Regions from separate parts of the Homo sapiens genome. Here region 2 is linked to region 1. Evidence: fine-mapped expression QTL. A gene starts in region 1. The other region holds a variant in brackets. All regions are shown on one strand. Distances are from middle to middle. Region 1 holds the start of ZMIZ2 (zinc finger MIZ-type containing 2). Region 2 has its middle 22 kb from the start of PPIA.

Region 1 (2,909 bases):
GAAAGAAAGAAAGAAAGAAATTCTGACACATGCCACAACATGGATGGAAGTGAGGACACTGTGCTAACTAAAGTAAGACTGTCACAAAAAGACATATAATGTATGATTCCACTTATACGATGTCCTTAGAGTAGTCTAATTTAGAGACGAATAGTGAATGCCAAAGGCTAGGAGGAGGAAAGAATGGGGAGCTAGTGTTTACTGGGTATGGAGTTTCCATTTGAGAAGATGAAAAAGTCCTGGAGACGGTTGGTGGTTGCACAAGAATGTGAATGTACTTGGTGCCACAGAACTACACTTGGAAACAGTTAAGATGGTAAGTTTTACGTTATGTGTATTTTACCACAATTAAGAAAAATTAATTATGGGTAGTTGAGAGAATGTGGTCTTCCTCAACTTACGGTAGGAAAAGTCAAGAATAACTTAAAGGCTGATAATAGCATTTCAAAGATCGAAACTGATCAGAGAGGCTATTCCATCAGGCTAGACTAGCTCAATAGTGACTTTTTCCAGAAGGAGAACCACTGGGAAGAGAGAACTGAGCAGTGAGGACAGCGAACTTGTTAAGTTTAGTTTTCTGCTTTAACGAGGGGCTTCCGGAGTCCTTTAATAAGATCCCCTCCCAAAAGTGGCACCCTGGGTCTCTCTGTCTCCCAGTCGTGTCCCCGCCCGCCGGGCCAGAGCAATGGACTCCCAGGAAGCAGGGGGGGCGCGGGCGGGGCGCGGGCGGGGCGGGTGGGGGAAGGGCAAGGACTCACTCTTCCTTTCCTCCTCCGCCGGGGCCCGCCCCGAGCCCTGGCCCCACCCCGGCTCTCTGGATCCGCCTCCTCCTCCCGACCCCGCCCCGGCACCTTGGCCCCGCCTTCCACTCGGCCCCGCCCCGGCGTCCTGGCCCCGCCTCCGCCGCCCGGCCCCGCCCCGCTCCCGGCGGACTGCGAGCAGGAAGAGCGCAGTGGCTCTGCCGACGCCGCGTTCAGAAAGGTGTGGAGGGGGCTGGGGGCGCAGGTCGCGATCAGGCTGCGTCTCCTGCCCGCCCAGCCACCTGCGGCCCTGGCCCCACCCTGCCGCTTTGGGCCGCTCGGGCTCGCGGCCGCCCCCGCCCCGAGCGCCGGCTCGGGGCTCTGCTGCTCTGGCCTGGGAGGCGGGGCCGGCTGCGCGGCGTCATGCATATGCATGAGCGGCGCGGCGGCGGCTCCATTGTGCCCTCGGAGCGGGCGGCGGCGCGATGGCGCGGGTGGCGGCGGCCCCGGGGCGGCGGGCGGCGCGGAGGGCGGGCTGAGCGCATGGAGCGGCGCGGGCCGGGGGCCGCCACGGCGAGGGGCCGGGCCAGGCCGGGCGGAGGTGAGCGGGGTCCTGGGGGTGGCCCCTGGCAACGCCGCCAGCAGGCAGGTGTGGGCCGGCGGGGGCAGGCAGGTGCGGCAGGTGCGGGCCGGCAGGTGCGGGCGGGCAGGCAGGTGTAGCTGGTCGCCCGGGGCGCCCCGGTTCCGCTGCGGCGCCACGGTAGGGTTCACAGCTGGGCTGGGGCTAGAGGCTCTGCCGCCCACCTGCCGGCACCTGCCACGCGTGCGTCGTGGTCTTGGGCAGGCTCGGCCCCGTGGGCGTCAGGGTCATCCAGCCCTCCCCTGAGTCTTTGTTGGAGGCTGGCCGAGGGGTGTAAGCGGCGCTCGGGGTTCTCCTGAGCGATGAAGGCTGGCCGGGCCTTCGCTCCAACCTGATCGTTCCTAGCTTTGGGGCCAGGCAGTCTCACCTACATGGTACGCCCCTCCGCTCCTACTTACGTGCCCACCAGCACGGCGATGTGGGGGCCGTCTGAGGCCGTCACCTGCTCGCGGAGGAGCTGTTCCGCTCCTGGGCTGAACGACGCTGAGCGGCCAGCCCCCAGCTGCCAGTTTTGATGGGGACACCCCTTTCCAAACTGGACATACTGAAGCTCAGGCGTGAGGATGCCCTGCTCCCCTGAGGTGCCTTGTCTTCCCTAGTGCCAGGTGTCCTTCACCGCGGCACCCCCACCCGGTGCCTTGTTTACCCCTCCACCTACCGTGTCTCTCCTCCCATTCCCTGGACCCTCTGCCCTGCAGTGTTCTGCCTCTCCTTCTCCCTAGGGTACCCTCTTTCCAGTATTACAGAACATCCATGGTGGTGTCTTTAATTTGTGTCATCGCAGATTTCACAGGGACACACACGGAACATGTGACTTGGTCTGAGACCGTGGTGATTACGGATAGGATGGACACAGACTCACCACCAAGTTCTGGCAAGCTAGAACCAGAGGGCATCCCTTGATGCTTAGTGTGGAAACAGGAGAAGTGAAGGAATCTTAACTTCCAGAGGTACTGACCTCTAGCCCTTGTCATGCCCAGGGGATAGTTACAAGCTGGAAGTGTAAATGAAGAGAACAAGCAGGTGACAGTTGCCGGTTGTAGATTTCTGAAGGACAGGCCTAAGATGTTTGGGGAGCATCCTGATTATTGGGATTGAGCTCCCAAGGGCTGATGACATGAAGGTGGTCATGTGTCCTCAGTCCTAGGATGCTACCAGATATCCATCTTACACATTGTAAACTGATGCCAGGTTAAGGTTGTCCCTTCAGCTGTTCACTGAAATGTCTCATGCCTGGGCCATTGCTTATTCCTGGACTTTTTGATGAACTCTGCATCCTGACTTAGCCCCACGCTTAGACATTTTAGTACTGTGGCCTTACAGGTAGAGGGGGCAGGACTTTCAGCTACCTGTATATGTGAGTACCCCACTTTTTGCTACCAAGGACCCCGCTCCTGCAACATTCCACAGCCATCATTTCTTCAATACCCTTTGACTCCATTGTCACCTGGGTTGGATCCTGACCCTGCAATCTTGGAGACAGTGAGTCCTGATGTGTGACCTATTGAGAAGCGTTGCCTGCCACAGGG
Region 2 (2,909 bases), 25 kb after region 1:
GAATGCCTTTCACAGTTCCCATCGTAGCTGATCAGTTAAACCGTGGTGTGATTGTTCTTCCCACTTTTTTTTTTTTATTTTTTAGAGATGGGGGGGTGTCACTCTGTCAGGTGGAGTGCAGTGGTGCAATCACAGCTCACTGCAGCGTTGACCTCCAGGGCATAAGCACTCCTCTCATCTCAGCCTCCCAGGTGGCTGGGGCCACAGGCTTACACCACCACGCCTGGCTAATTTTTTTTTTTTAAGCAGAGTCTCACTCTGTCCTCCAGGTGGGAGTGCAGTGACGCGATCTCGGCTCACTGCAACCTTCGCCTCCTGGATTCAAGCGAATCAGCCTCCTGAGTACTGGGATTACAGTACTCGGCCTCCTGAGTACTGGGATTACAGTACTCGGCCTCCTGAGTACTGGGATTACAGGCGTGTGCCACCAAGCCCTGCTAATTTTTGTATTTTTAGTAGGGATGGGGTTTCACCATGTTGGCCAGGCTGGTTATGAACTCCTGACCTCAAGTGATCCGCCCGCCAAGGCCTCCCAAAGTGCTGGGATTACAGGAGTGAGCCACCGCACCTGGCCCCGGCCCCAACTCTTTATTTTAATAAAGTTAAAAAGTAATGCAATGGCAAGTGCAGTGGCTCACACCTGTAATCCGAGCACTTTGTGAAGTCAAGGCAGGAGGATCGCCAAAATCCAGAAGTTCAAGACCAGCTTGGACAACAAAGTGAGACCCTGTGTCTACAAAAAATTTTTTTAATTAACCAGGTGTGGTGGAGCACACCTGTGTAGTCCCAGCTACTTGGGAGGCTGAGAAGGGAGCGTCACTTGAGCCCAGGAGTTTGAGGCTGCAGGGAGCTATCTTGGTGCCACTACACTCTAGCCTGGGTGATAGAGCAAGACCCTGTCTCTGAAAAACAACAAAAATAAAAATAAATTTAAAAGAATAGTGCAGTGAGCACCCACATAACCTAGAGATTCACCAATTGTTAACATCTTGCCATGTTCGTTTACATGCTCTCTCTTTCTCCATGTATCTATTTTTTTTATGCACACACTTTTTTTTGTTGCCAACTTTGGAAAGTAAGTTGCAGACAAAATAAATACTTCATCTCTAAATACTTCGGTATGTATGTTGGAAAAAAATTTAAGTTTTATTTTTCCTTTGCTCTGTCACCAAGGCTGGGGTGCAGTGGTGCAATCACAGCTCATTGAAGCCTCCACCTCAATCCTCCTACCTCAGCCTACCAAGTAGCTGGGACTACAGGCACACACCCCAACACCTGGCTATTTTTTTTTTTTTTTTTGTAAAGACAGAGTTTCACCCTGCTGCCCAGGCTGGTCTCGAACTTCTGGGTTCAAGCAATCTGCCCACCTCAGCCTCCCAAAGTGCTGGGATCACAGACATGTACCACCACATCCAGCCAGGAAGTTTTCATTTATAACCACATTACCATTGTCACAGCTAAGAAAATTAACAATACTATCATCCCTTGGTATCCATGGAGGATTAGTTCCAGGACCTCCTGTGGATACCAAAATACACGAATGCTCAAGTCCTGTATATAAAGTGCCATAGTATTTCCATATCTTTCTCTATGCCTTATTTACATTTTTTTCTTTTATTTTCTTAATTGATATAAACAAGTACACTTTTATAGGGTGCATAGTGATGTTTTGATACATATAATGTATAGTGATGAGATCAGGGTAATTAGCATATTTATCTGGAACATTTATCATTTCTTTTTGTTGGGAACATTCAATATTCTCTTTCTAGCTATTTGAAATGAT[G/A]TAATACAGTCATCCTAAAATGCTATAGACCACTAGAACTTAGCCCACTTATCTAGCTGTAATTTTATATCCTTTAACAAATCTCTGTCTACCCACTTCCTCCTACCCTTTCTACCCCTGCTGTATGCTTTAAATCATCTCTAGGCCAGGCGCAGCAGCTCACGCCTGTAATCCCAGGACTTTGGGAGGCCAAGGCAGGCAGATTGCTTGAGCTCAGGAGTTCAAGACCAGTGTAGGCAACATGGTGAAACCTCGTCTCTACAAAAAATACAAAAATTAGCCAGGTGTGGTGGTGTGTACCTGTAGTCCCAGCTACCCAGGAGGCTGAGGTAGGAGGATCACTTGAGCCCCAGAGGTGGAAGTTGTAGTGAGCTGAGATTGCCCCACTGCACACTCCAGCCTGGGTGACAGAGTGAGTCCTTGTCTCAAAAAAAAAAAAGTAAAATTTTAAAAAACATTAAAATTAAAATAATATCTAGATTACTTATAATACCTAAGACAATGTACATAGTTGTTATACTATATTGTTTTCATCTGTATCATCTTTATTGTTGTATTATTTTTATTTTCCCCCAAAATATTTTTGATCTGAAGTTGGTTGAATCTGTGGATGCAGAATCGGTGGATACGGAGAGTAATGCCATGGCATCATTTATTATATTCGCATGTTCCAGTTATAACTTTTTTCAACAGAATCCGATCAACACTCACATTTTGCACCTGGCTTTTGTGTCTCTTTAGTCTCTTTTAATCTAAAACAGTCTTTTTTTCATTACATTGATCTTTTCGCACAATTCAGGAGTTTCTTGTAGAATGTCCCCTATGCGTTCCCTCCTGGTGTCATTTACTCTTTCCTTTATTACCGTATTTCCTGTTACTTGAAAGATAAGGCTGGAGCCTGATTAAACATTTTTGGCCTGAGGAGACTTTCATTTTTCACCTGGTTTCCTGGCTAGACTGTAAGCTCCATGAGGGCAGTGTCATCCTGATATGCTCCAGTGCTGGCAATATTTGTCAAAGAAATTAACCCTGGAACAAAGGGAGCAAACACACCTCCTGCTTGTCTTGTCTGGGTGTTATCATGTCCACTCAGCCTGTGAATGTCCTGGCTAAGGAAGTGCAC

The links. PIP is the estimated chance that this variant, and not a neighbour inherited with it, causes the effect.
Region 2: its variant is fine-mapped to the expression of ZMIZ2 in whole blood (INTERVAL, PIP 0.91).

What each region holds. Positions count from the first base shown.
Region 1 is chr7:44,747,651-44,750,559 of GRCh38, forward strand. It overlaps ZMIZ2 (zinc finger MIZ-type containing 2), which reads left to right and starts at 1,197. Exons shown (of 19, transcript NM_031449.4): 1 at 1,197-1,341. RefSeq lists silencers at 692-1,221, 1,332-1,441, 1,452-1,501.
Region 2 is chr7:44,772,787-44,775,695 of GRCh38, forward strand. No RefSeq gene overlaps it. Among named protein-coding and RNA genes, the nearest start is that of PPIA, 22 kb to the right of the region's middle. The variant G/A (reference allele first, on the strand shown) is at 1,787.